Linked DNA regions of Homo sapiens: regions 1, 2 and 4 are each linked to region 3. The links come from fine-mapping of genetic effects on gene expression. A gene starts in region 3. Each other region holds a variant in brackets. All regions are shown on one strand. Distances are between the middles of the regions.

Evidence for each region. PIP is the estimated chance that this variant, and not a neighbour inherited with it, causes the effect.
Region 1: its variant is fine-mapped to the expression of NKD1 in cerebellar hemisphere (GTEx, PIP above 0.99). The same link has a PIP of 0.9 or more in cerebellum.
Region 2: its variant is fine-mapped to the expression of NKD1 in tibial nerve (GTEx, PIP 0.95).
Region 4: its variant is fine-mapped to the expression of NKD1 in T cells (TOPMed, PIP 0.92).

Annotation. Positions count from the first base shown.
Region 1 is chr16:50,381,282-50,389,721 of GRCh38, forward strand. No RefSeq gene overlaps it. Among named protein-coding and RNA genes, the nearest start is that of LINC02178, 9.6 kb to the right of the region's middle. The variant C/A (reference allele first, on the strand shown) is at 4,012.
Region 2 is chr16:50,591,892-50,600,331 of GRCh38, forward strand. The region is part of intron 3 of NKD1 (NKD inhibitor of Wnt signaling pathway 1); the gene reads left to right. Among named protein-coding and RNA genes, the nearest start is that of NKD1-AS1, 18 kb to the right of the region's middle. RefSeq lists an enhancer at 6,089-6,589. The variant T/C (reference allele first, on the strand shown) is at 5,012.
Region 3 is chr16:50,544,379-50,552,818 of GRCh38, forward strand. It overlaps NKD1 (NKD inhibitor of Wnt signaling pathway 1), which reads left to right and starts at 4,018. Exons shown (of 10, transcript NM_033119.5): 1 at 4,018-4,200; 2 at 4,339-4,371; 3 at 5,044-5,177. The coding sequence starts at 4,176. RefSeq lists silencers at 3,661-4,110, 4,151-4,340.
Region 4 is chr16:50,333,997-50,338,996 of GRCh38, forward strand. It overlaps BRD7 (bromodomain containing 7), which reads right to left. Exons shown (of 17, transcript NM_013263.5): 7 at 715-899. Among named protein-coding and RNA genes, the nearest start is that of BRD7, 32 kb to the right of the region's middle. RefSeq lists an enhancer at 1,610-1,689. The variant C/T (reference allele first, on the strand shown) is at 2,636.

The DNA.
Region 1 (8,440 bases), 160 kb before region 3:
TCTTCCCCCCAACTGCACAGCCAGCTACTCCTGGGAGAGGCATAAATAGTGACCTACAGGCCGGCTGCAGTGGCCCACACCTGTAATCCCAGCACTTTGGGAGGCCTAGGTTGGTGGATTACTGGAGGCCGGGAGTTGGAGATCAGCCTGGCCAACACGGGGAAACTCTGTCTCTACTAAAAATACAAAAATTAGCCAGGCATGGTGGCACATGCCTGTAATCCCAGCTTCTTGGGACGCTGAGGCACAAGAATTGCTTGAACCCTGGAGGTGGGGGTCTCAGTGAGCCAAGATTGTGCCACTGTGCTCCAGTCTGGGCAACAGAGCAAGACCGCCTCAAACAAAAATAAGTGACCTACACCATGAGACTTTGGAGTTGTCAAGCCTTTGCAAAATCTCAAACTCTCTCTTCTACTGATGTGAGTACTGTAGTGCCTGAGAGTCCATTACAACAGAGCAAGGGCAAGGTCTAAGAATCATCTTCCAAGGTCAGCACACCTGGAAGGGGTATTGCCTGAACTGAGCCTGGTAATTTCCTCCTGGGATGGGGAGGGTGGGGAGGGTGGAGAACACAGTGACAGCGCCCCCTGCCCCAGGCTTTCACTTCACCAGATATCCATTAAGCACAGTGATTGTTAGGGTCCACAGGGACTTCAGATACAAACAAGACACAGCCCCTAACCTCAGGAGGCTCAGGGTTTGGTGGAATAGACGCGTGACTTGCCCCCTTTCTGCCGTATGACACTTTGGGCTCGTTACTTGAAAGCCTTGGCTTCCTCATCTGTAAAATGGGGTTATAAATGTACCAATCTCATTGGTGATAATTCATTGAGTTGATGCATAAAAATGCTTAGGACAGGGCCAGGCTCAATAAGGGTGAGTAGTCAGTGTTATTATCTGCCATGCCTCAGGCAAGGTACAGAGTTTCCCCAAGGCTACTTGACCTCTTCCTGTTTACCCTGCCTCCTGGCCAGCTGCCCTCTGGTGGTAACTGTGCAGAGTGGTCGCCTGCCTCTGGCACCTGTCTGATCTGCCCCGGTCCTGCTGACCCCTCCTGTGGGCCTTTTGGTTGTCTGGACTCTTGGTATGTCCCAGGCCTTCCCTTTTTGCTAGGTTTCCAAGGCTGCTCTTCTGCGTCAGCAGGTTTCTCAGGCTTTTCAGACCCAAGTGACCATCTTGGGACATAGGCAGAGAGAAGCCTTGATGTTACTAGTTATTTCTGCCCATTGGGCACCAAATAAACACTTTCTCTAGCAACAGCCTCTTGACTTCCACTTAGAGAGCCTCCTCTCCCCACATGACCTAAGCCTGCCAATGAGAGTGTCACAGCCGCGAGGGCCAGTGAGGATTGGTTCAGGGGTGAGCATGTGACCCAGGCCTGCCAGTGAGAGTATCACAGCTGCCAGGACCAATGATTGGTTCAGAGGTGGGCCTGTGACTGGAATCTGGTTAATGAGAATATCATAGCCCCTGGCTTGGTGATTGGTACAGAGGTGGGCAGGGACTGAGGCTTGGCTTTGGTGGGACCTTTCCATGAAAAGCTTGCTGAGCCAGTGGTATGTCAGTCTGGTGCTTTTGGGGCTTGAGAGGAGGCCCTGCCTGAGAATAAAGCTAATGGTGGAGAAAGCAGAGCCAAGAGCTAGTGGCCTGGTGACAGTAATTGAGTCTCTGGATCCAGCTGAGCCTGAAGTTCATCAACCTCTTACACTTTTCAATCCAAGGGTTGAATAAATTCCCCCTCTGAGTTTTGTGTACTTTGAACTGGATTTCTAGCCCTTGCAACTGAAAGAACATAGGCTGACTTGTGTGTGCATGGACACACACACACACACACACACACACACACACACACACACACACTTCATTCAGTGCCTACTGAGGAGTCCCTCTGCTTAGGGAACTGAGCACTGCCTGTTCCCAGAGCATACAGAGGTGACCAGGACAGTTCCTGACCTCAGGAGTCCCAGGAATGGGGCAACAAGTCCGACTTCTTGCTCAGATACTTTTAAGTGTGGCGGGCCCATTCTCACCAGGGCCAGCTACGTCATTTGTAGGGCTGAGTGCAAAATGAACACGTGGGGTCCTTTGTTCAAAATTATTAAGAATTTCAAGGTAGGAACTCAGAGCATTAATCCAAGTGTGAACCCCTATGTTCATGAGGGAACATATACATGAGGAAACTATCACACAAACCATTATCAAATAGGTCTAATTTAAGGTATTCTGGGGGACAAAGGCTTGGCTCCTTCAAAATAGAATCCTTGGTAGGGACCCAGGTTTGAGTAGTGCTCACCATGGCAGTAGCCTTGAGGGGAGCTGGGAATGATTGGGTGACCATACGATCTGCCTGTGGTCACCAAGGAAGGCTGTTTTGCCTGGAAGGGAAGAAAGCTCCTGGGAACAGAAATCTCAAGACCAGGCATATGGGTGGGTGGGAGCAGAGGGAGGTGGAGTTGGTTGGGATCCTTGTTTTGAAGTGGGAGGCAAACAAAGATGGGCGAGGTCCATGTTTGGTAAAAAGATGGACCAGGAGTCACAAAAGTGTCAGGGAGACCTGGTGGTCTCCTGGTTCTGCAACCAGGCAGACCTGGGGTTGAGTTCCACTTTGGCTGTTTAGTAGCTTAGCGACCTTGGGAAAGTCACTTGACCTCTCTGAGTGCAGTTTCACGGAATGGAAAATAGCAGTGATATTACCCCCAGCAGGTTTGTAGTGAGTACCTAATGGGATAGTGTCTATAAAAAAATCCTTTATAGGCTGGGCAGGAAATCGAGACCATCCTGGCTAACATGGTGAAACCCCGTCTCTACTAAAAATACAAAAAATTAGCTGGGCATGTTGGCATGCACCTGTAGTCCCAGCTACTCGGGAGGCTGAGGCAGAGAATTGCTTGAACCTGGGAGGCAAAGGTTGCAGTGAGTCGAGATCGCGCCACTGCACTCCAGCCTGGGCGACAGAGTGAGACTCCATCTCAAGAAAGAAAAAAAAAATCCTTTATAAGCTATGAAATATGACCAAAATCCATCAGTTCTAAAACTCATCTTTTTTACATTTCATATCTCTAAAATCGGGATAAATCTTATTATCCAAGGTGTGACATATTTAATTGGCAACTTTTCTTTTTCCTTGGTGGCTCATGAAATAATTTGTGTGTGTCACGATCAGTGGCATCTCATTAACAGATCTGCTGAAATGATCGTTGAAACAGCAGTCGTTGGCTTTTCCATCTCCACTGCCACCCTTGCCTGTGTTTCCAGAGAACAGAAATTAGACCTTTTCATCTGTGTCCTCTCGGAGCCTGACATAATGTCTGGCACAGGTCAGTGCTCAATTAATGCTTTAAACCAAAGTTTAAAGTGACTAGCTAAAGGGTTTTGCTGGAAGGGCTTTTGACAAGCTAAACCCAACCCTCTCACCTTCTGATTAATTGCAACTTGGGGCTGAGGCGTGGTCATTTGTGTGTCTTGTTTTCCTGGCCACCCAACTGATGCCTCTTTGTCTTATTTCTGAGAGTTGCTATGGTTCATGCTCTTCGTTTCTATAAGGTACACAGGGAACACACTTACCCCCTCATTCTTCCTGCCCCCTCCACCACTCTTAAGACTGACTCAATTAGCGTGTCACATCCCTCTGGCCTCAGTGATTGGTCCAGGGATGAACATATGACCCAATCAGAACCTTTGAGATACTATGAGATTTTTTTTTGCAGGATGTAGCAGCCCCTGACTGGGCCCCATGCATAGCCTCTTGGTATTTGCCGTTTCCATGCACACGGGCTGAACTTCCAATTGCCCGTCTTTGGGTCTATGCTTGAGTACTCTCTCAGGCTGCTGGGGCCCACTCTGTCCATGTGTGCTGCAGGGGCTAGAAGTCAGGGGGCTAATGGAGCCAAGGAGTTGCCAAGGTAGCCAGGGGAGGCAAGTGAGGTGCGTAGGGTGCAAAATTTGAGGAGTCCTAGTCCCAGCTTTGTGGCAGCCCTCAACCAATGGCTGATGGGAGCTGGTGGATAAATA[C/A]CCCATTTCTCTGCGAGGTGCATGTTCTACCCTGGCCCTCACAGTTCCCCAGTGGGATTAGGCTCCGGGTGCCCACAGAGATAACTGCATGGTAACATATCTTGTATTGGCTTCCTTCTCCGTGCTGGCTCTCTTCCCCATTCCCTTACCAGTACTTCCTGTGATCACTTCCCAAGGAAACCATTTGTCCTAAAATCGTTGACTAAGGGTCTCCTTCTGAGGGAGCCCAAACCAAGACACTGGAGCCCCTGCTATTGTCTGTGGTTGAGGGCTGACGCCACTGTAGAGGCCAGCAGCTGTCTTGCCAGCTGGAGGGGCAAAGGATGGAGCCAACATGGGGGAGAGCAGAACCGGGAGATGGCAGGTGATATGATTTGACGATGCTCTGCTGCAAGGATCATGCACCACAGTTCAGAAACTTTCTAGACTTCCCCTTGAGCACTCTCTGTGCACCTATGTTTTTTCTCCTACAGCCAGCCATCTTTTCTCTTCTCTCCACTTTCTCCAAAAATGCTATTTTCCGGAACTATTCACTGCTTTCTCTCTCTCAGCTTCTGAGCCCCACTCCACTAAATTGGTCTCCTGGGATTTACCATTCAGGAAATTGTTTGCATGTGGGTAGGGACTTGTAAGGAAAAAAGTAAAAAGGGGTGTCAGTATGTTGGTATGATGGGATGTGGGGTGGGGAGTGTGGTATGTGCATATTTGTGTTTGTACTTCTTGGCACAAACCATAGGTTCATGATCATTGGTACAGCCTTATCTACTGGGAACTCACATGGGAACCCAAAAGAAATGACCGAAGGCCTTCTCCCTTCTGTCACCTCTTTCCACCTCTCAGGAACCTCGTATCTCTCTCATTTCTGCTGTTCTTACATCTCTGTTCTTTCTCTTCCTCTCTGCCTCCTTCCTCTGCTTCAACATGGCCCAAGGTGATCACCCGTAGGCAGAAACCAACTCCAGCTCAAGTTCTCCACAGAGAATCTGATAGGCTCTGCTCAACTGCCAATAAATGAGCTTTCTTGGGCCAGGCCCTATCCTTTGTCCAATCAGCTTTGGACTTGGTGTTGAGGGTGGGGCCCTGGGCAGGATGGCCAGTGAAATATCCTGGATGGCTCCTCCCATCACAGATGCCTGCTCCCAGAGCTGCAGGACAGTGTCTGGGAGGCGGGATGATGACAACGATGACTGAACACTTACTTTAAACCAGGTGTGGATCACACATTGCAGATGTTACGTGTACAGATCTTAAGTGTATAGCTCAATACTTGTATTACTTTTAATTCCCATAGCAAACCCACCATATGGACGAGATTATTATTACCCCCAATGTACGGACATGGAAACTGAGGTATGGCCACTGAAAGCATAACCAGCACTGTATTCTACCCCTGTCACCAAGTCACCTCCAGGGATAGGCATAACCCACTGTGTTCCCAGGCAGCGACAGGGAGACAAACCAGGTGATGTTAACTTCCCCAGTGCATAGGGTGCCAGGTGGAAGCCTGCCAGCCTGGCTCTCCCCTTTTGGCCATCCTTATTCTCCCCCTGGCCCCCTCCTCCTGGCCGCTTGGTACCTTCCTCTCTTTTCCCGGGCAACCCAGCCGCAGATGGAGGCAGACCCTGGGAGTCACCAAGCGGCTTTATGATGTGCAGATGGTGTTTCCGCGGAGCCCCTCGCTTTTCATGTCGGTGGCCTCTGGGAGCTGGGCCAGCCCAGATGTCCCTGATCGTGAGAAAGCCTCCCCTGGCAAGGCTGGTGCAGGATGCCAGTGACGGGGCCTCTGGCCAGTTCTGGTGTGGGTTGTCTGGTGAGGAGCTTGACTGGATGCTCGTGAGGCGGATGCCTCTGTCATTTATGTCCAGCTCTGCGAGTTCAAACGGTGCATCTGTAGAGCCAGGAATATCCCTTCTGAGTCCACAGACAAATGGATAGAGACTTTGCACAGCCAGCTTTTCAAAAGGACCCTACATTGATCTCTTTTTTCCCCCATACATGTTGTTTTATCTGACTCTCAAGCTATCTATGTGCACAGACTGCCTCTCCCATCAGAGGAGGTCCCCTCCTGTGATGGGAACAATCTCACCCCCATCAGTGATAAACTGGGCCAGGATCAGGAGGCATGTGTCTCCTCCATTAGACTAAGAGTTTGCAGTATTAGGGAAAATGGAACTCTGCTCTTTCCTCTCCAAATGGGACTTCCCCAAATCAGGAAAATGTGACCCTGCCATCAGATTGGGAGTTTTCAAGGTTGAGATCGATGAGTCTGTCTCTTTCATCAGGCTGAAAACCCTCCAGGTATGAGATGGGGGTCTCTTCCGTCTGATCAGGAGCTCCCTGAGAGTGGGGATGATGGCTGCTTTTCATCTCTCTCCTCCCAGAGTGCTCAGACAAGGCTCAGAGGATGTCGAGAGCTGAAAAGAGTCCTGCTGACCATCCTAGGGGCGGGCAAATTTCAGCCTGGACTCGGAAGACCTGCCCTTGCCCAAAGCACCTGAGGAGAGTGGGATCAGTGTCAGCCACAGCAGGTTCCAGAGAGACACAGGTGAGGAAGACTGTTGTGAGATGTATGGACCCTGGACAGAGTTTGTTTTGTGACCTGCTACATAACCCAACTTCTGGCTCTGGGCTTGGTTCCCAACAAGAGTTCAGTGATGACGAGTGAATAAATGAATGAACGAAGACCTGGTTCCTGTCCTTGAGAAACTCAACTCTTCTAAGGAAGAAATGAAGCCCACTTCTCTTGGGTGCCTCTATGTGTTGGACATAATTTTAGGTTCTCTCACGTACATCACAGAATCTTCAAAACCAGCCTAGAGGAGGTTGAAGTGAGCTGAAATTGTGCCATTGCACTCAGCCTGGGTGACAAGAGCAAGACTGTTAAAAACAAACAAAAACCAGCCTAGAGAATAAATTTTATTTTTTCAACTTTATAGATAAAGAAACTGGGGCTTAGAGAGGCAAAGTGACCTGTCCAAAGTCTCATAGCTATTGAATAAGGGAACTGACATTTGAACTGAGGTCCTTCCACTTCCAGTGTGCGCTCTTCCTGGAAACATTATTATCATTTGATTTCAGAGCTACGCAAGACAGATATGGATGAAGTGGCACATGAGCTGGGAGTGGTATGTGAGAAGGAAGCTCAGAAAGGCTTCACAGGAGTAACATTGGAGATGTGTTTTGAAGGATCAGTAGGAGTTCACCAGACTGAGAAGATGTGGAGGCATGGTTAGAAAAGGAGGGGCAAATTGTCTACCTGGAAGGTTCCCTGTAGGGGTTGGTGGGCAGGCTGCCCCCTCCCACATGTGCTCTGTGGCACTGCCTCTCTGTGGAGCTGGACTTCCTCTCCCTTTTTGGGAGGACAACAGATGGAAGCCTCATCTTATGCTGGCACAGCCTCATCTCATGCTGGCACATTGCTGCCAAGAGGCCAGGAAATCTCTGTTGTGGGCCTCCTACCCTGGTGGCAGAGCCAACTGTGCTTCTGGAAGGAAAGAAAGGTGGGTTGGGATCAGCTGTGATGAGAAGTTTCCCCTTTGAGTCCTCTGAAGAAGATAGCATAGAGGAGGAGCCGAGACCCTGGTCTTGGATCTGGCCAGAGAAAGATGGGGTTGGGCAAGTTGTCTCCAAGGGCTGTGACCAGAGGCCCTCTCTCTCTGGCTTAGAAAGCAGCTGGAGACTTATTATATCCCCTGGGGGTGTGAACGTCCTTTAGAAATCTTTTCTGGGCCTGGTGTTTGAGGACAGGCAGGTATTATATTTTTCTGGGGTGGGAGGGCAGAACAGATTTTCCACAGATTCTTGGTTTTTGATCGATGGTTAGACTTTGTGAATTCATTATTTTGCTGAAACTGAGTAGAATGAAGTCCAGCTCTTATTGAGCTCATCAGGGTCCGATTAGAATCACAGGTTCAAGGAGGTCAGAAGGAACGAGCAGAGGCCCTCAAGGCCTGTGGCTTTTAAATTGTATGTGTGTTTTAATAAGCAGATACTTAAAAAAAGCCTGGAGATCTTATTCTGAAGCTCAGTGTGTGTAGCAGATACAAGCAGAGCAGCTGTTTGCAGTGAAGTGGGGAACTTAAAGACCACCTACTCAGGCCAGGGGCAGGGCTCACACCTGTAATCCCAACAATTTGGAAGGCTAAGGTGGGAGAGTCCCTTGAGCCCAGGAGTTCAAGATCAGCCTGGGCAACAGCGAGACTTCATCTTTACAAAAAAATTAAAATTTCTCTTGGTATGGTAGCATGCACCTGTAGTCCCAGCTACTTGGGAGGCTGAGATAGGAGGATTGCTTGAGCCTGGGAAGTTGACACTGCAGTAAGTTATGATTGCACCACTGCACTTTAGCCTGGGTGACAGAACAAGACCCTGTCTCACAAAAAAAAAAAAAAAAAAAAGAAAAGAAAAGAAAGAAGAAAAAAAGACTACT
Region 2 (8,440 bases), 48 kb after region 3:
GGGGTGGCTGCCCGGGGATAGGCAGGAAAGCTGTGTGGGCGGGGGCCAAGCAACCCAAGGGGACCCTGTCTGCTTGTGTGTGGAACAACCTGGGCTGTGTGTGGGATGTGATGGCCTTGGTCTCAGATTGGAGAAGCCCATTGCACCTGCCCCATTTGCATTCTGGGCAGTGACTTGGCTGCCGCTGAGGACAGAGCTGGCTAAGGCCACAGGGAGACGCCAGGCCTGTGTTTTGAGCAGGGGCCAGGGCTGGATGCTGGAATAGGCAGCCGGCTCAGGTCCAGTCCACATTGGCCTTGGATCAATGAAAGCTGTCCCAAGGCCAGCGCGTTGCTGCTGCCGCCGCCTGGGGGCTGCTGGACTGGGCGGGGCCTTCTAAGGCCACTGTCCCCAAGTCACTGGCTCTGAGAACATTGCCAGCATGTCCTGGGCCCACTGGGGGTGGGTCCTAGCCCTGCCCCATGCCCTCCCCACTCCATGATTCATAGTTTCACTTGTCCCTGCCTGGCATCGCAGCCAGGATGGTTTTATCGATGCACAGAGAAAATACAGAGCCTGCAGAGAGGAGGAAGAGAGGGTTAGCGGTGTCCTTTTTTGTCTGCTATTTTATGTGTCGTTTTCCAGGCACCATGCCAGCTCTGTAAGGGCCTTCAGTAATGAGGGAGAAATGTACGGACCCTGTCCTCAACGAGTTTAGCCGGCTGGGGAGCCTGCAAGCCACAAGTAGTTGTCTCACAGAGCGCCAAAGGCTGCAAGGAGGATGCAGAGTGGGGCCCGCACAGAGCCCGGGGCTCCAGGGATGGCTTCTCTGAGACTGGAAGAATGAATTAGGAGGCAGCGAGAAGCAGCGAGTAGGGGAGCATCCTGCACAGAGGGTGGTGATGGGGAGGGGGAGGGGGCGGAATTGAAGGCATGGGCTGTGGGGGAGGGCTAGTGCAGAAGCGGGTGGAGACAGGCAGGGTCAGTTGTAGGGACGGCATCCCTGGTCCCTTTACCCAGGGCAGTTCCAGTCTCTCCCAACCTGGGTATGAACAGCACTCCCTTTGTCTCTCTAAAGTGTCCTGGTTAAGGCACTAGCATTATATGGGCAGTCCAGGTATAAGTACCTATGTTTATCTCACAAATAGGGAAACCAAGGCTCATGGAGAGTTTGTTGTGCAAGGACTTGGAACGAGGATGGAACCGAGTGGGGCCGGGAACTGTGCCTGCTTGACTGGAGAGCTCAGGCTCTCCCATCGCCCCACACCATCCTCCTTAGTGAAATTAAACATGTTCTCTGAGCATAGACTCTGCCCAGCCTCATGCCCAGGTGGCAAGGGTGAGGAGGAGCGAGTGAGCAGGACTCACTCACTGGCTTATGAGGAGAATAAGCTCACCCTGGCTTAAGCCAAAAGGGGAGATTTTGTGGTCCACGTCATTGAAAAATGTAGGGGAGGTACTAGCTTCAGGCACCATTTGATCCAGGGGCTCAAATGATGTCAGGACCCCTTTTGCATCCCCTCGTGGCTCTGTTTTCCTGGGTATTAGCTTTTTTCATAGCTAGAATTTCTCTGTGAGGTGGTAAAGTGCTCTCAGTAGGGTCAGGCTCTCAGCTCACATCTCACCAAAGTCAACAGAGAGAAAGAAGATGTCCTGGGGTTGCCTCTCCTTGGCATAGCTTGGGTTGTGTGCCCGGCCCTGACCAGTCCCCATGGCTGGCGTGGTGCGAAGCTCTTACTGGGCAGGCCTGGGTCATGTGCCCTCCCTGGTGGTTACGGGGAGAAATCAGCCTGCCCACACCATGTGGGTGAGAGGAATGGAGGGGCAGGGTTTCCAGATAAAATATAGGACACACAGTTAAATTTGAATTTCAGATAAATAGCACTTCATTTTTTTGTGTTTTAAGTCTATCCCAAATACTACATGGGACATACTTATGCTACACAGTGATCTGTTATCTGATATTCAAACTTAACTGAATGTCCTATGTTTTTATTTGTGAGGTCTAGAAAGCCGCCAGGGAAAATCAAAGTGTTCCCAGAAGAAGGAGGAAGGGGGCGCTGGAGACCAGGGGCTTCTGAATTTCAGATGCCCACTGCAGGAGCCAGATGAGGGACAAAGAGCTTCCTACAGCCTCGGCTTCCTCCCAAACTTACAGTCTGTGAAGCCAGCCTGAAACGCGCTGGCTGAATGAGAGAGGTTCCTGGGGCACAAGGTGCTTAGAACAAGCTTCTTGCACTTGAATTAGGCTCTGAAAGATGGGGAGGGGGTTTCCTGAAGTGGGGCTGGCATGGGGTGGGGTGGGGTGGGAAGAAAATGTCCATTTCCATTTTTCTGCCTCTCAGGCCTGAGCCCTGGCATCAGGGTCCCTGGCCTCTCACGTAGCTGGATTGGCCACAGTGTGACCATTGCCTTTCTGGGCTGGACTGATGTTCCACCTGCTTTGTCTGAGACCAACCAGCTTGCAATTCATTGGCCTGCCTACTCCCTGTGAATTCACCAAGTGGGTCAGGATTCCTCCAACTACCCGCGTAGTTCAGGGGAGAGCCCTGTGAGGTCAGGGACTGCAGAAACAGAGCCTGAGGTGAGGGTCACGTGCTAGTGATTCACTCAGGACACTGTCCCAGGGCAGGGCAGGCCAGTGAGGCAGTGGAGGAAGCAGGACAGACAAGAGGAAGAAGCCAAGCACAGGTGCCATTTCAGGCAAAGTCTTGGCTTCAGTCTGACCCTCTGGGGGAGCTCTGGGGTATAAATTATGCTTCTGAGTTTGTCGTGACAGGAGGTATGGGCTTTCATTCTCCTGCACCAGGCTCAGGGCCACCTGGGGTGGGGACACGGCAGTTCTCTGAGTCTGCAGACATAGCCCTAGGGCAGGCCTCTGAAGAGGGCCCCCAGGTGTGAGCTGCTGGTGGGGAGCACATAGGGAAGGGAGGGGGGCACACAGACCCGGGGGGATCTGCACGTGCACACGGTGCCCTGGGGAGGTGGACTGCTATCAAAGGGTCTAAAGAAGTAAGGAGACCCCTGATCTGTGAGCACCTCGTGGGAGGCCTGCTACAGGTGGTCTGGAAAGGCTTGAGAAGTCCACGCAGCATTCCCCAAACGTCCTGGGCCCCCATGCCTGGACCCACTACGTTTTCCTTTGAAATGTTTGGTTGCCTGAGACAGTGCTTGTGGAGAAACCGTCCAAAGGTGGGCTTGTTGGTCTGGGTGCTCCAGCCCTTGGCAGTCAGGGTGTGTGGGGGCTCTTGTCCTGTGCCTCTGCTCCCCGAGGGAACTCATCGCTCGCTGGTTCTTTGCTACCAGCTGTGGGTCCTCTATATTCGGATCCTGGCTCTGCTCCTCTTTGGCTTTGTGACCCTGGGTAAGTCCTGTCCCTTTTTGAGCCCTTAGTTTCCCCATCTGGACTCTCAGAGGTTCCTAAACTAAAATTCACAAAAGGACTTGTAGTGGGGAGGTTCATGAACCCCCTGAAATTCAATGTGCAATTTTCTTTGCATGGCATTTTTCTAGGGGGACATTCTCAGAGGGGCTGGGTCCTTCTTGCAGGTCAGAACCTCTGAACAAAGGCTCTGGCCTGGCCTGATGCTGGTGGTCCTGGTGGAAATGTGGGGCTCAGACAGCAGAGGCCTCTCTTCCAGATCCAGGAACACCCAGGGGCATGTCCTGAGAGCCCTGGCCTTCCTCTCGGGAGTGCTCCGTTTCTCCCAGCCTTACCACTCTCTTGCCTCCCCTATGACTCTAAGTCTCCCCATCTGTAAAAACAGCAATAGCTCACACGTGGACCTCCTGGGGTTGTTGGGTGAGGTACAAGTGTGATGGGTGAGGTACAGGTGTGATGGGTGGAGTCACTGCCATGAAGACCTTCTTATCCCCAGGCCCAAGAGTGGCCTCAAACCTTCCATGCTGACCATACGGACTCTCCCAGACCTCACTGGCTTCCCAGGTGACCACCCTGTGGTGACACGGGCCCCTGATGTGGGCTGTTGACTGGACCTGCAGGGGCAGGCAGTGGCCTTCTAGATCCCCATACTTTTTGCTTTGAGATCTTTGGTTGCCTGAGAATGGCAACAGCAAAATTTGGTGTGTGCTGGTTGGGATGGGCAGGAGAGAGTGCCACCCTGCTCCCCCTGAGCCCCCGATGACAGCCTGGCTTGCATGCTCAGCTGGTCTCATGCCATTTCTGGAATCAAAGCGCTGTCTGCATTACACAGCCCCTGGCTTCCTATGCATGTACAGTGAGAGCAGTGAGAAGCAGGCATGGGTGTGGCTGTGGCCTCTTTGTGGCCTGGGTGCACTGTGTGGCTGTGGAAGGGAGCAATGGGGTCTGGGTGGACCAAAGTCTGGAGTCTCCACCTTCCCTCCCAGCTGGAATCAGGAGGCCACCCATTTCACCAGAATGCTGTAGGTCTTGCCACTGCTAGGGCCAAGACCCTTTTAGCAGACTTCTGAGTGTGAGTCTTTCTAGAACCAACTTGGGTGCCCATTTTTGTATGTTTTAGCATTTTTTTTTTCCTTCAAAACACTTTGCTGTAATTTCTGATTGTAGAAGTAATCATGTGTGTTCATGGAAGACCATTGGGTGACCTGGAATCCAGCACCGGGCACCATTTCTGGGAGCATTTTGGTGCCCGTCTCTGCAGACGTGTGCCTCCTACTACAGCGCGTGGAAACACGTGCAGATAATGTTAGGAAATGTAATCACATTTTCTCTGCTGTTTGGCAACTACTTTTTTCTTTCAAGAAAATGCAGGGCGTGTTTTTCTGAGTCAGTAAATACAGAGCTGCATTTGGTGGTTCAACACACGCTGGTCGAGTGCCTCCGCCGTCAGGCGTTGATACATAATGTGTCAGATGGTGGGAATGCCCCAGAGATAAATAAGGGATTGTGGGAGAGGGGGCTGCAGTTTTAAATAAAGAGATTTGGGAAGACCTCACCTAGGTGACAAGGTGATAATGAACCCAAACCTGAAGGAGGGGCAGGAGGGAGGGGTTATCCAGAGGAAGAGTCTTCCGGGTAGAGGGAACAGCG[T/C]GTGTGAAGACCCTGAATGGGGAATGAGCTGAACCTGTTGGAGAAACAGCAAGGACGCCTGTGTGGCTGTGGGCGAGCGGGTGAATGGGGAGGAACAGAAGGGGTGAGGGAGGTGATAGGGCAGACAAATTGGGTGGGGCTTTGATGGGCTTTGGTGGGACTTTGGGGAATTGGGTAGGGGTTGGGGTGGCGACGAGGGCAGAGAATAGAAAATGGTTGTCATTATTCAAGAGGACTGTGGCCTGGAATGCGTGGCAGAAGTGGAGGAGGTGGCAATGATTGGTTTCAGGGTGTGTTTTGAGGGAGAGCCAACAGGATGTGCGGAAGCCTCTGGGGTGTCTGGCCAGAGTGAAGGAAGCAGGGAGCTGCCCTGTGTACACAGGGAAGGCACTGGGGAGGACAGGTTTGGGGGCCGCCAGGCGTCCGGTTTGGACACATGAAGTTTGAGGTGCCTGTTGAGCAACTTGGTGACATCAAACAGGAGGGAGAGCCACATCATTTGTTTTAATGGAAAAACCGCTTTGGAAAAAGTTATTATTATTTTTTTCAGTATAAAAGGGTTGAATGTTCTTGGTTTAAAAAGAGAGAATATAAATATAAAATTCAAATCACCCAGAAAATCAGACAGCTGAAGGAGACAGCGCCCCAGTTCCCATTTCTGAAGTGGAGCGTGGCCTTCCAGAAACATTCTGGAAAACGCACCTTTTTGTTTATCAACAGCACAGGAGCGGACTAGGCTGCTCCTCAGCAGCTTCCTATCTGACAGCACTGTGGACCCTGGGCCCTCATTCCCAAATGGCCCCTCTCACCTTCTCGGCTTTTCCACACCCACCTTTGGTGTGATCATCGTGCACTGCTGCGTGGCAGGCGGGTGGGATTGGTGCCCTCATTTTATAGATGTGGCCACTGAGGCTTTCGATCACAGCCCTGGCAGCATGCGAACTGCTGAGTTTCAGAATGAACCGAGTCCTCTGGAAGCCGCCAGTGTGACCCTCTTGATTATGTCCTCATCTGGTGGTTGGGGATGGTGGGAAGTCGAAATCCACAGTGGCTCCGGAGGAGGCAAAAGACTTCACTGGCAGTAGAGGGAGGAGGGCGCTCCGGGTGAAGGGGACAGGATGGTCCAGGGCTGGGAGGCTCCAAGTGGGCGGTCTGGCCTGTGAGAGGGATGGTGACAAGTTTCTTAGAGCTATTTTGGGGACAAGGGGACAGAAGGGGCCAGGAGATGAGAGTGGGAGGCCCAGGGCTGATGGGATCAGAGTGGGTAGGAGCATGGCTTCTGCAAGATGGTTTCTCCAGGGCACTGCAGGGCCGCATGGGTGGACTCTGTGTGTGTGTGTGTGTGTGTGTGTGTGTGTGTGCGCGCACACCTGTGCTCATGGACACTCTTGTCCTGTCCGTAAAATGAGGCCTCAGGGTATAGGAATCAAGAGGCTCTTACTTCATCTGTTTCGTTTAGGTTCAGAAAAGCAAGAAGCTCAAGCCCTTCATTCCTGAGGCTGAGCAAGAAATTCCAGGCTTCTTGGGTCCCCAAGCCCCTTCCCTGGGCAGGAGCACACATCCTTTCCCCACAGTGAGGTGGCCTATGGCTATGGGGCACCCTTCCTTGGGGCCAGATGACAGTGCTGCCTGTCATAAGCAGCCTGGCTCAGGGCCACCCTGTCGGCAGGTCACACGTGCTAGACCCTGGCAGCAGACCGGGGGCCTGTCCCAGGGCCAGGAACTGCTGGCAGATGCCGCCCCAGCTGCTTGGTGATCAGAGGCACGCCACAGGCCCTCGGGCCTCTCCTCTTATCAGCACTCGGCTGTGTGGCGTGGCGGGCCAGTGGCTGGGCTAGTCAGCAGTGTGGCAGGTGGTGGCATGGTGGGGCCAGTGGTGTGGTGGGCAGTGGTGTGGCAGGATCAGTGGTGCGATGTGCAGTGGCATGGTAGAGTCAGTGGTGCAATGTTCAGTGGTGTGGCGGGCAGTGGTGGGGCAGGATCAGTGGTGTGGTGGGGTCAGTGGTGTGGTGGGCAGTGGTGGGGCAGGATCAGTGGTGTGGTGGGGTCAGTGGTGTGGTGGGCAGTGGCTTAGAGAGGTCAGTGGTGGGTGGGAAGGCCGTGTGTGTGTGGTCAGCAGTGGGTGGGAGGGCAGAGACTCCGACAAGCGCTGAGTGCACTCTCTCTGCTCTCTGCAGCCGGCCAGAAGTGGGGTCGCCTGAGGCCTTCTGGGGTGATGAGGCAGTGCTGGGCTGGGCTTTGATCCGCTGTGGCATCCCTGACAAAAACCAGGGCAGAAGAGAGCATGTGAGGGAAGAGAATGAAAGACCAGGGCCCGGAGGGAGAAGGAGGTGACAGCTGTGACTTGGGACACGCTATTTGAGCCAGGCCACTCACCAAGCACTGTACACATACTCTCCATTCCTCTCACAACTGCCCTGCCAGGTGGGGGCTGTCATTTCCACTTTCAGCTGGGGAAACTGAGGCATAGTCAGGTAGACTCATTTGTACAAAGTCACACAGTATAAAAGCAGAAGAACCAAGGCTCAAACCCAGACCTGACTGACAACTCGAGTGAGTCACTTAACCTCTCTAAGCCTCAGTTTCCTCATGGCCAAAGTGGGGGTCATCGCAGAGCCCAGCTTCTAGGGCTGCTGGGAGCACTTGGTCGGTGATGCCCCTAACGTGCTTCATGGAACACTTGGCAGATGTCGCACACTGACTAAGACTGGTTATCATCATCACTGAGTCCTTTATATTCATGACCTCAGTTACCCCCAGGCCCCAACATGCCCATCAGATCCCAGTTTCCACTGTAGAAATGCCTTTGAACACTGTCTAGTCGGAAAATTGTGGTCAGACAAACAGCAAAGTCTCCCCACCCCGTGCCCTGCCTGGCTCTGGGCAATTGGCCCTACATTGGTTCATCTCTTAAGGGCTCTGAAATGCCAGCAGTTTGAGATCAGGGAGCATTCTGGGTGATGTCAAGATTTACTCTTTTCTGTTGTTGGTGTTGGTGTTTTGGGTTTTTTTTCCCCCATTAGTCATTTTTTCTCCATGCTCAGAAATCACACTGAAGCCATGAGTCTTCAAGGAGGGTGGCCAGGTGGGAAGGTTGGTGGCATCTCCTGGTGCCCACCTTGTCTGGTGTCTCTCCCCCACCCACCGTCTTCCTACTTATTGGAACCAGCCTGACCACTGTGGGGGCCAGGGGGTAGGTTCTTTAAATCCTGTCTTTCCGAAAGCATGGTTCAATGGTTGATGTCCTATTGAGGGGTTGGAGGGGCAAGTGGTGGGTGTCTTATATTTTAATGATTCTGAATTTGTTCAATATGAATTGTCCTTAAAAAAACAAAACAAAACAAACAAACAAACAAACAACAAAAAACACCTAACCTGGACAACATAGCGAGACTGTGTCTCTACAAAAAGTTTTAAAAAATTAGCTGG
Region 3 (8,440 bases):
TCAGGCAGAGTAGTCTAACTTTCCCCTCCTCACCCAAACTAGGCTTCCAGGCCCTTTAGCAATGCCAAAACTCACCAGGGAACTATAAAATAAAGCAACTCCAGGGATCCAGGAGGAACCAGTGGAGACTTGGGAACTGATTTTCTCCTTCATATATCCAAGATCGTATTATTGGCAGTACTCCCTCCTTATTGACCACAACATGCTCCTGGCTGAGGCTGGGCAGAGAGAGTTTGTCTCCTTCCACAGCAGGTGTGATGGCACCTGCTATAGGCAGTGCTGTGTTCGGCATTGCATTCAGAGATGCAAGTAAGGCAAGAACCCTGGCCTCAAGGAGCCCTGGCTCCAGGAGTGAAACTTAGCCTCATGCATAAAATAAGTGGAGATGGGAGGGGGCAGGGAAACCTTGGCTAATCAGAGCAGAGAAGAGCCCTTCAGGTTGGAAGGTCAAGGAGGGCTTCCTTTAGGAAATGGCATTTGAAGGGGCCAGATCAGATGGCTTAACTTCGGGGACAAGCTTTGGAGCAGCTAACTTGGGTGATGTAGGATTTTTTTTTTTTTTAAATCTCCCAGCTCTATGTCTGACAGATTTCACCTAAACCAGCCTTGTTAAATCTCAAGCCCCATGAAACCCGTTTCTGTTATAATCTCTCTCTCTTATCTCTTCCTTGCCTTCCTTTCCCATTCTCCTCCCCCAAAGGATAGGAAATCTTCAAAGAAAAAGATGTGTCACTGCAAGTATACAGCCCAAGAAATGGGCCAGATAAATTATTAAAACACACGAAAAGACAGTGAGTTATGGGGTGGGAAGCCCTCGGAGGCCGAATGGCCACCCCAGGTAGACAGCATGCTGGTGGCCCCTGGAGACCCCCTTCTCAGAGACCTGGACAGACTAACATTTTGCCACAAGGCCCATCTCTTGGGTTCTCACCCCAGATCCGGGTAAGGGTATCATGATTCCAATAGCAGTGAAGTCCCAGGCGCCTGCTGGGCTGGGAGGCACCAGGGTGAAGGTGGAGGGGGGCTTTGTGTCTGGGCTGGACATTTGGGATTTACTCCCCGCAAGACTCAAACTGCTAACTGCAGTTTTAGTTCTTGCTTTTATCTCTTTTTGAACTGTAAAAAGAAATTCCCAAGGGGAAGAGGGGATACTTTTTTCTCATGGAAGAAGAAAGCCAGGACCGGTTTAAGAAAGTAACCAACTTTCTAAGCACTGTGAGAAAGGATGCTCCAAGTTTTGCTTTGATTTAGAGGCACCCTGGTACCAGCAGGGAGGGGTGAGAAAGGCAAACAGGAATTCCAGACGAATTCCATTGCCTTTTGAGGGGTCTGAAAGAGGGTGCCCACTCCGACTCAGATGCTCAAACCCCTGCCTCCCTCCTACACCTGACCCCCGCCGTTCTGCCCCACTTTTTCATGTTCCTACAGCTCAGGGGTTCTTACTTCAGCATTACCCACATTTGATGCTGGATCATTTGTTCTGGTAGGGTGGGGGGGCTGCCTTATGCATTGTGGTATGTGTAGCAGCAACCCTGGCCTCTACCCACTAGATACCTCCAGGCATTACCAAGTGTCCCCTAGAGGGCAAAATTGTTTGCTGTCAGGTCCTTATGGGATGGAAAGAAAGAAAAATGGCCTGTTACCCCTGGTGTAACTTACTACACTGTTTACTAATTCATCATTTATTGTTTCTTGCCTATCTTCCCCCTAGGTGAGTGGGAGTTCGATGAGAGTGGCAGTTGTCTATTTTGTTCACCGATGTATCTTAGGTGACTAAAACAATGGTTGTCACATGGCTGGCCCTTCATATTTGTTTCCAGATGGAAGACTCTCTTTCTAGTGGTGGAACATTAGTTTTGCACTGTGTTGGGACAACCTGATGTAGTGAAAACAAGCCTGGGCAATGAAATCAACAGATTGGAGTTCAGTTCCTAATTGGGTCATGGATGAACTTTGTGACCTTGGGCAAGTGAGTTCACCTCTCTGAGTTGAATAGGTTCCCTCCTTTCTAGAACAAGTATGAGTCTGCATCAGAGAGTGGTTGCGAGGGCTACACATGATGGAGGATGAGGACTGGCACATCAGAAGTACTGAATGAAGAATTGTAACATAAAAATGACAACAGTAATATATTTTTGTGGTTTCAGCACTCTTCAAATGAAACCACCTGGCCAACAGGATTTTAGTGTACCTGCTTATAACATTAGCCTTCGTTTCCACCAAAAAGGGTGTTAAAAAAGGAAGCTTGGAACATGAAAGTAAGACACTTGGATGAAGAGATTTATGACTCTGGGGGGCTGTGAATTCCTAATGTCCTTTTGAGACATGTAGATCTTCCAGAGCGATGCTGCCCAATGCAGTAGCCACTAGCCAAGTGCAAATGGTCACTTGCAATATGGCTAGTCTTTGAGATGTGTTTTAAGTGTAAAATACACACTGAATTTTAAAGACTTAGCGCAATACAAAGAATGTAAAATATCTCATTATATCTTGAAATTATACTATTTTGGATATATGGTGTTCCCTTGGTGTCTTTGGGGACTGGTTCCAGGATCCTAGAGGATACCCAAATCCCCAGATGTCAAGTCCGCTATATAAAATGTCCTGTAGTATTTGCATATAACCTACACACATCCTTCTGAATACTTTAAATCATCTCTAGATTCCTTGTAATTCCTAATACAATGTAAATGTTATGTAAATAGTTGTTATACTATATTAAAAAGTTTTTTATTCTTTATTTTTGCTGTATTATTCTTTTTGCATATTTTCAGTCCACAGATGGTTGATGCCACAGATGTGGAACCTGTGAATAAGGAGGGCTGACTGTATTGAGTTAAGCGAAATATATTATTAATATTTCATCTATTTCTTTTTACTTCTAAAAGATGTGGCGACAAGAAAATTTAAAATTACAAATGTGGCCCACATTATATTTCTATTGGGCAGTGCTGCTCTAGAGAGTCGGCAAAAAGGGCAGAATGGAGCCTCCATTATACAGATCACAAAACTGAGCACAGGTAATTCACTCCAAAGGTCGGGGCTGGTCTCACTCTGAGCTGCGGGTTTTCTTTTCCCACGCCAGAGCTGCCTGGTGCCAGGACGAGCGTAACACGGACCCACAGTGTCCCCAGAAGGGGGCAGGCGTTCTGAGAGCCACAAAGGTGGGGTGGAATCCCTTGATGTCGACCGCCACCATCCCCCTCCCCCCGCGCGACCTCCCCGCAGAGACCTCCCCAGACAAAACAAACAAACCCTTGGGTCTGGCGAACTGCAGCGGGGAGCGGAAACCAAGGAAGATCAAAGACTCAGCGGTTACCCCCTTCCGGGCCGCGCAGTTTGGCAGCGCGCCCCGACCCGGGCGGGCACCCACGGGCCCCCGGACGAGGAGATCCCAGAGACTGGCTGATAACGGGGCGCTTTGGACATTTGTCGCTGCCTGGAGAGGGCTGGGCTCACACTGGCCCGGGGTGCGCTGGGGGCTCCTCCTGGACTCCCCAAATAAGAAACTAGAGGAGTGCGGTGGTGGGGGGCGGGTCACGGGGCGGGTAATGAACACTTTCTGCAGAAGGTAGGTCGTGGGAAGACTGGGAAAAGGCAGCGCTGCCGAAGCTTGCACCTGAGCAGCTAAGGTCTCCGCTCCCGACCTCAGTTTCCCCACCTGTAAATTGGAGCCGCCGAGTCCCGCCCTGCCCGTTTAGAGAGAACGTGGAGCGGAGGGAAGTGACAGTACAGTTAGCGATGGCCGGGCTGTTCTGTCCCAATACGCCTCCTGGACAAGCCGCCCCGCCGGGTCGCCAGCCCTGGAGCTCGGCCCCCGGCCCCAGACCGCGGCAGGGAGCGCGGACTGTGTCCCGCCCCTCCCGTCAGCGCCCCGCCCTCGTCCCCGCCCTGCCCCGCCTCCGGCCCCGCCCCCGCCGCAACCAGCCTTGCCTTTGATGCGCCGCACCGGCCAATGGGCGCGCGGGGAGGCGCGGGCCGCGGCGGCGGGCTGGGGGCTCGGCGCTCCCGGGCGTCAGTCGGGCCGCGGCGACGGCGGCAGGAGCGCGTCCCGGCGCCGCCTCGGGCTCCGCTCGGCTCGGGGGCTGCTTCGGGAGGAGGAGAGCCAAGGGAGGCGCCAGGCCCGCGGGCCGGGCGCATGGCTTAGGGACGCTCCCGGCCGCCGCAGCCCCAGCATGGGGAAACTTCACTCCAAGCCGGGTCAGTGCCCCCGCCCGCGCGCTCGCCCCGGGCCCCGCCGCCGTCGCCGCCGCGGTCGCTAACTCTCTCCCTTCCTTTCTTTCCTTCTCCCGCCGCCGCGGCTGCCGCCGCCGCCGCCGCCTCGCGATGTGCCTGCAGCCGCCGTGTGCAAGCGCAGGGAGAGCCCGGAAGGTAGGGGCGCGCGGGGCGCAGACCTCGGGGATGGACGCGGGGGACACCGCGGCCGCGGCAGAACGGCCCAGCCCGCCAGGTCTTATGACCAGGGCCACCCCGAAGCCCCAGTTCCGGCCACCGGCCCCCCAAGCCCGCTCCCTGAGCAGCCTTCGCGCCCCCTCCTCTGTCCCTCCTACCCGCTCCCCGCGGTCCTGCGCTCCCACCGCTGACCCTCAACCCCTCCCCCTCCCGCGTCCCTGCCCTCGGCTCTCACGGCACCCTCTCTTCAGACCCCCAAGCGCCTCCCCGCAAGACCCTGCCCCCTCTTCCTGCCCCCCGGCCCTTCTTCCGATATCCTGGCTCCTGCACCTACTGCGGCCCCTCTCCTGACCCCCAGCCCTCTCCTCCGCAGTCCTGGCTGCCAGTGCTCCCTGGTCTGATCCTAAACCCGTCCTCCTGGGGTACTGCTCACCCCTCTTGCCCCCTTCTGGCTCCTCGCTCCTAGGGCTTCGCTGAACCCCCCTTTACTTACCCGCGTCCCTCTCTTGGCTCCTGCCCCAGCCCGCGAACCCCCTCCTGGCCCCCGTGCCGTGGTCCTTCGCCTCCCACCGCGCCTCCTTCTTCCCTCCGCGGGGGTAACTTTTGGCACCTGGAGCCAGACTCAGGGGCTTCATGTCGTCCCCGTCCCAGGTGACAGCTTCGCCGTGAGCGCTGCCTGGGCTCGGAAGGGCATCGAGGAGTGGATCGGGAGACAGCGCTGCCCGGGCGGTGTCTCGGGACCCCGACAGCTGCGGTTGGCGGGCACCATAGGCCGAAGCACCCGGGTATGATTCCCCACCCCTGCCCCACCTCCTGGCCTCCTTTCAGCCTCAGAGATGGGTCCCCAAACCCATGCACCCCAACTTTGAGCACTTTCCTGCACAGCTTCTGGGTCTGAAAATCTCTTCTCAGCTGCCCCCTGCCCCACCAACGCGACCCTCTGCCCGCATGCCTTGGAGAACCTCGAAGTGCCCAGCTGGAGGCAGAGGGCTGCCTGGGGGAAAGGTCCTAGGTGGGGAGGTGGTGAAGGTCCAGTTGATGGGGAATCGTGTCTGTACCGGCGGGATTTGGGGGCCTGCTCTGACTTCTACCTTGTTTCTGCCACCAGCATTCAAAGGTGGAGGTGGAGTAGGGGCTAGAGAGAAGGGGGTATTAGGGGTGTCTGGGTGGAAGGCAGAGCTGTGCTGGCCCCAGGATCTGAATATGTTCTGATTGTCTGTGGCATTCATCAGTACCACCTGTACAGGAACCCCAGTAGAGCAGGCGGCCCTCTGGGTAGCAGATCTAGGGGGACTGAGACCTGGAAGACCCCTTACTTGGCATATGAGATAGAGGGCCTCATTCCACTGTAGCCTGGGCAGAGCCCTGAGCCTTCACCCCGTGTGTCTCTGAGGCTGGAGTTCCTGGAGGAGCACTAAGTGTGATGGGAATGAGTGAGTCCAGCCCCAGCTCCTGGCCTGGGACTTGGCGTTCACAGATGTCCTGTGAGCTCCGGAACTCTGCACGGGGCTTTCAGGCAGTCTGCGTGGAACTCGCGCAAGCCTAGGATCAAAGGATGAATCAACTTTTTGATGTGACATTTAATTTTTTTTTTTTTTTTTAACTTAGAGGGGGAATAGACTGAGTCTCAGGTCTGGTTAGTTCTTTGGTCTTATCCATGGGCTGGGGAGAGGCCAGTGGAGACTTCAGATGTGTTTGTATTTGGGTGGTGGGACCTGGCAGCTCGCTTGCAGTGCTGGTGTCGGGAGGTGGACCTGTGGATAAAGTCAGTTCCTGTGTGTGGATGAAATAACCTCTGGGCCTAGGAGAAGCTCCCCTGTCCTCCTCCACCGCCACTGCTTAGCTGGGGGCTTCTCTGTCTTCTGTTGGCCGGGTCGGACTTGGAGCTGCTGTCCCCTAGTAAAGGTCAAATCTTGGTGGGCGGGGGGCACTGCAGTTGGGGCCCTTTAAAAAGAGAACTACAAACCTCTCCTTCTTCCCCTGCCCTTTCTAGTTTTTGATCTACTTATTTATTTAAAGGCCAACGAAAACGGTCTAATTTAGCCGTATGAACAAATGCATTTACAGCTCCAGACAGAGGCCAACTGAGTGGATTTCCATTAATCAAGTTTTGGGTTTTTTCAGCCTGTTTATTTTTACAAAGTATTCCTGCAGAATGACATTTATTTGCAGTCCCTCCTTTTTCTTTTTCTTTTCTTTTTTTTCTAAACTGCCAGGCAGCTTGCTCCATGCTAGAGGGAAAACTTGAAATACAGCGAGGGCTTACTTCAATTGACTTTTATCTTCAAAGCCATAACAAATGTTACCCGCATGTTTTTGGTGGGTCTCCTTGGCATCCAGTCTGGGAGGATGGGAGGGAGGAGGAAAGAGGGAGAGGAAAACAAAAGTCTGTCGTTTTTAATTAAATAGTAGTGTTCCCAGCGAGAGGAATGCAGGCCACTAAAGTTGCCATTGGGGGAAGTGAGGGAGGGTGGGGAGGGGGCCCCAGCTTAAGTCTGTGGCTTTGGTGAAGTCACGGAATTCTGTTGCCTAGTTTCTTCCCCCAGCTGAGGACAGCATGGGATGGTGCCTGTCCCCCTCTCTCCCTCACCCCCTCTCTCAGAGAAATGCTGAGAGGTCATTAATGTTTGTTCAAAGTACTTTTGAAGATGTGAGGCTCAGAGCCGTTGGCATGACATGTGTCAGGTGGTTGGAGGGTGGGCCGCAGCCATCAAAGTTGTTATGCAGGGGGCCGGCCTCTGTCTCCTTGGGAGTTGTTCTTGCTGCTGGGGACCCAGACGCCTGGGTTTTCACCAACCTTGGCCCCAGATGGCCCAGCCAGTGTGTCTGCAGAGGTAGGGATAAGGAGTCAGAACTTCAGGGGGAGCCCAGGGTGTGGAACAGCACTCCAGGCATCCTCCAGGTGATTTCAGGTGGAATCTGGGGGAACATTTTAAATCTTAATAGTTATCTTTTTTTTTTTACCAGAAAAAAAAATAACTAGGACATCAAACCCATGATTTTGCAGATTTTATTGCTTAGGATGAAGCTAAGTTAAAAAAGAGTCTAACGTGAAGTCCATTCAGAGAAAAATATTAAGTACAAGTGGTCAAAATTGTGAATGTGGGAATGGAATGCCCCAAGTTTGGGAAGCACTAAGATATTGAACAGGACAGCAATGGGCAACCCTCAGGCTAGTTCATTTCCCTGATTCCCTCTGGTGCCGAAGGGGTAGCTGGTAGGTTCTTCCATGATATCATCAGGATGTAGGAGGGCATGGGCTCCAAAGTCTGCTGGTTTCCAAGGGCTGGCAGAGGTCCTCCCACCAACCCCAGGCCTGTTTTGGGGCTAGTCTCTGCCTCTAGTCCTTTACGTGGCCTGTCAACTAAGTGGCTGGAGACACAGTGGCTCATCCAACTAGTATTATTGTTATTGCAATGATAACTAGTATTTATTAAGTGCCTATATGTGTCAAGCACTTTGCTTACATTATCTTAATCCTCCCCATAACCTTGTAGTGTTGACAGCCCGCTGGTGTGGACTGTGTGTTTCTCCCTTTCTGGAGCACTTTCTAGGAGAAGCCATTTGTAGAGAAGCCCTGTGCCAGGGCATCCGCCTGGAGGGTGCTACATACAAAACTCCCAGAGAGGGGGTGCTTCGAGATGAGCCAGTCGTGGGGCAGGCAGAAGCAGGAGTGGCCCCTGTTTGCCCTCTTCCTTCCTGATGAGGTCTGAGGGGCTTGGGAAATGTCCCAGATGAGTCCAAGTTGCCTGCAGGGTCCTGAGATGTGAAAGGGTGACCATGCTGGCATTAAACTAAGCCTGCCCTCTTAAATACAGAAATAAATGAGGTCAGGCTCTGTCCTAGTGATTTGTCACCTGTGCAAACCATTTTGCCCTTGTATACCTTAATTAGCTCATCTGCAAAATGGGTGTAATAATATTTTCATCCCTGGCGGGTTATGATGGGATTATAACTGTTGAACCTGGGAAGGAAGGGAACCTACTGGGAGATTCACTGAAGACATTTGTAGGGTTGGAGATGGGGGCCTACAAACAGGGAGTGATAG
Region 4 (5,000 bases), 210 kb before region 3:
ATATACCATTGTTCTTTTAAAGTTTGATTTTTAAAATTTAAAACAAGCACTTAAGTGTGTAAATCTTAGAACAAAGAAAAACTTGTCACTAGTTTACTTTCTTTGCATTATGACAGCAAAAATCCCAAACTGCTAACTACAACCCTCCCCAAAGTTGGCAGTGAGGTGCTGGGCGGTCAGGGCTGGCTCCCAGTAGTGTGAACGGGCAGATGCGGCTGCCGTCAGCTGCACAGGTGGCTGCCTAGGTGGAACAGTGGTTCAGCGTTGCTCCCACCAGCTGACATTGGGTGGAAAACATGGGCACGCTGCAGTGACAGCCCATCTGCTTAAGACGCAGCAGTGCCTGTGCTCCCACTGAACTCCTTGCTCCTTTATGGAAGGAGGTAATGACTATGCATTTTTTCTTAAACAAACAGTTCTATTTAAATAAACTCACTGACCATATCAGTCCCAAAAGACACTTTATAGGTTTTAAAACTACTTCAATAAGAATACACATTAGAACTGCTTTCTGAACTGTGTTTGGACAATCCCATATAGTGCTTCATATGAGAAGAGGGGTATCACACCATCAAAATGGACTTTCATGCCAAAACACCACCACCACCGACACACTAGCACTTGGTCTTCCCAAGTCAGGCCCCGAATAAGTATTTTTCCCCCTTACTAGCTTGAAGAAGACAGTTTGACCTTAACATCCCAAAGATCTTTTACTTTTTATTTTCTTTGCTGGGACTCTTGAAGGCGTGTGCTTCGGCATCTCCAGAGTCCTCTCTCTCTCTCTGCCAGCAGCCTCCGTCCTCCCCACTCTGTGAGGTGTCTGTTCCATCTTTCTGCTTTCGAGTTTTCTGCAAGTCAGCCATGAAGTCTATGCTCTGCTTCAGGCTCTGAATTCTTTCCTAAACATATTCGAAAATATTCTTATTATATGTTTGTCATTAACTTTTAAAGTAATGCATTTTTTTCCCCACAGGAGTTTATACTTATCCTGTCATTAACCAGGGAAGAAAAACAATTAAATGTAATCATATACCAAGAGAGTATTGTATTTGGAAACCATGATAATGCCTACACCTTCAATTCTTAAAATTTAATTTCCAACTTCATAGAAAGCTTTACAACTTTATTGCCCTATCAGAAATTTAACAGAGGAGAAAGTATGAATTAAGACTAAGTATTCTTTGAAGTACTGAATTGGAAGACTAAAATTTAGTTTAATGGTGTGTTAACATTTTGTGTTTAACAGACAGGCTTATCTTTTGACAGTTAAGAACTGTTAGGTGTATCAAAGCCTAGGGCATGTGAGCGTGTGAAGTCCCTCTCTGTTCTGGTAGCCCAGTGTGCTCACGGATGACGCTGGCATTTCACTCTGTGTGAAAACAACAAGCCTTGAGGAGAAGACAGTTGGTGGCACAGTTCCTTCCTCAGAGTGCAGAATGGTTTCGCTAACCAAAGAAGTCTTGTTTCTATTCTGTGAAACATGTGCTTAATTTTTCGCTGCAATGATGTGCTGTGAAATTTTCATTGTAGTTAAGGGCTTGAGGTTTCTCCGTAAATTTTAAGAAGGCATATTTGTTTCTACTGACTACCTTGCCTGTACTCTGAAAGTTATCACTGGGTAAAATAGAGTGCAACCTCCTTAGGGCTGCACAGCAACAGCAGGGAAGACTTCTGTGGAGTAACATAAACTAAGAACTAGAAAGAACCAGAGGCCATTCAAACAAGAACAACGCAGCCCAGGAACAACAAATGACTCACCTAAGGTCACTAAACCAGCAACTAAGACTAGGCTTGCTGTCACTCATGTTGGGCCTTTCCTCATCACACCATGCTCTATTAGTAGTGCAGATGGTGACATCCTCACCAACACAGTTCTTGCTGTTTTTTACTGGACTTTTAAAGTAATCTTAAAACCATTAAAGCGATCTATTTTATTGTGGACAAATAAAAATATGGGTAGAGGAGAAAATAAAAATCCTCCTAATGTCTCATCCAGAGAAGAACAGTGTTAACAAGTTTATTATTCCAGTACTTTTCCAACCATTACATAACCCAGCAAATTGGAATTATACTGAATATTTAGTAAAAAGCATTTTTTCAGTTAATAAATTATAAGCATTTCCTCTCCATATCAATAGATATTTAAAATATTTTAATAACTATTTAATCCCACGTCTACACCATGATTTAATTAATGGCCTATGATTGAACATTTAGATTTCCATGTTTCCACTATTATAAATAAAAGTACCATCAACATCATTATAAATAAATCTCTCTAGGAACCAGTATCTCTTTAGGATAAACTCTTAGAAAGGAAACAAAGTCAAAGGGAATGAATATTTTTGAGACTTTTGATAATTACTGCTTTCCAGAAAAGGTATACCAATTTACATACTAATTTACATTAGTGTTTGAAAGTTTCTCTGAATCCTTGACAAAATCAATAGTATCACTTAAAAAGCTAACCCATTAGAATCGCTTGAACCCGGGAGGCAGAGGTTGCAGTGAGCCGAGATTGCGCCACTGCACTCCAGCCTGGGTGACAGAGTGAGACTCCGTCTCAAAAAAACAAAACAAAAAACAAAAAACACAAACAACAACAAAAAGCAATCTTATTTGATTTTTAAAAACA[C/T]GTTTTATTTTGCTACATTAAAAATATTAGTGAGTTTAATTATTTCTGTAAGTTCTCAGTAATAATTTTATTTCCACTCTAGAATTTTATAAAGCAGAACTTACATTAAGAATGCTTTGGGGTTTTAAAAAACACGACATGCACAAAATAAATTCAATTAGAGAAAGTTTCTAAACCTTGAAACAAGTCCCAGGAAAGAGTGAAGTTTAATTTTCCTTTGAAAGCAATGTCTTTTTCTTTTTTTGGTAATTAAAATGCCTCCAAGTCAGCACATTATTGATCTTCAATTTTACAATATTAAATGGCTAACAGGGCTGGTTCTTTGCTAATAATATAGCTAACATTTACTTAGTGCTTACCCATGTGCCAGACACAACTCCATGAGGTAAGTACTACTATTATCCCCACTTTACAGGACAGGAAAAAGGCTGACAAAGGTTACCTGGGCTAAAGTCACACAGCTTCCAAAGGGTAGAGCTAGGACTTGAACCTTGATTGGTCTGATTTCAAAGCCACTATGCTACAAATAGTATTGTTTGTACTACTTTGTTTGTACTACAATGCAGCATTTTACTCAAGTATTTATTTAGGAGATAAAAAGTTACTCTTCATCTGTTCATTCTTCTTTTTTTTTTTTTTTTTTTTTGAGACGGAGTTTCCCTCTTGTTGCCCAGGCTGGAGTGCAGTGGCGTGATCTTGGCTCACCACAACCTCCACCTCCCAGGTTCAAGCGATTCTCCTGCCTCAGCCTCCTGAGTAGCTGGAATTACAGGCATGCACCACCACGCCCAACTAATTTTGTATTTTTAGTAGAGACGGAGTTTTTCCATGTTGGTCATGCTGGTCTCAAACTCCTGACCTCAGATGATCCGCCCACCTCAGCCTCCCAAAGTGTTGGGATTACAGGCATGAGCCACTGTTCCTGGCCTCATCTGTTCATTCTTTATAAAAATAACACGTCTACTAATAGTTGTTATTTGAGTGTAACTGAAAAAATGATGAGTGACTACTCTACAATTTTTTCAATGAACATTCAAAAACAGTTATCTTTGAAAAGACACCATTCACGGAAGGGTGTGCTGGGCTCTCTTGGAGCACAAACTATTAGAAGAGTTAACTCAAAAGGTCTAAATTTAAACGTTTAAAAATCACTGTTGTGACGACCCCTCCCCTGTAGGGTGGAGAGAACAGTCAATAGGAAGCTAATAACACAGGATGGGTGGGGCTCCTCAACAGCAAAAGATCTGAAAAAAAGGAAGACAACAGAGAGAAAGAAAGAGGGAGAGAGGGAAGGGAAAGTGAAGAAAATTTTATTTTCTGTGCTTTCAACCATTCCACACGCCAGTAAAATTCAAGAGATAATGGAATCTTTTGCTTGTTGTATTAACTACATTACTTAAGGAAGTGGTAAATCAAAGGTCATTAAAAATTAGGCTCCCACCACCCAATTCAATGTACATATTTTGGAGTGACTAAAGGCTGCATTTGACAAATGCATTTTTACTTCAAATACATTAACAAGAAGCATTTCCATGTCTTTAAACCTGGAATATGGCATGGTTCTAGATTCTGAGAGTCTTCCTGCAAAGAATGGGTAAACATTTCATATTCCTCTTTCCTCTGCGAATGTTGTCAAAGATGGGTAACTGGCTTCCATTAGTTTCCCAAGTCTTTAGGAAAGGGTGGGAACCAAAGTTGTCTAAATATTAGGAGCGCAAGAATAATCAACAATCCAAACATGTTTTTCTTTCTCTAGTTAAGTGAATCCAAGAATCTCTCAGCCAAGCATACAGACACTCAGACATCTGCACACCAAGGCATTTCTTTAAATGTAAAACTGTAATACAGAAAAATGAATCACCATAAAAATCGAAAAACCACATGCAGATGCACGACTCATTTTTATCATCCTTTAACTCCCCTGAATGTGAGCTCAAGCTCTGGACTCTGATTCCTTTCTCCTTCTACCAGTGTCTTATACCCACTCATTTCTTCTTTGCAAAATCCCTGTCCTATCTTGTGGTTCTTTTTCATAGTATCCTCTCTACTCTACCTCTTATCTAGAATCAGAACAGTAATGCTAGAAATCATCTTGGAGACCACAGACTAAACCCTTCTTTAGGGATGAGAACACTGAGTCCCAGGGTAGTTAATGTCTTGCCCAAAGTCCACAAGTTAGTGGAAGAGAGCTAAAATGAAAACTCTCTTCTGCCTGCCTGCCATGGTATGGTATGGTGCCAGGATCACCCTTGATTCGTTCCCTAAAGTAGTCTCTTACATAGGTTTCTCCCACTCAGAGTGGTGAGAAAAACCTCAAAAGATATGGCTTATCTTGCGAGTTATTTTCTCCAGCGGATGCACAGTG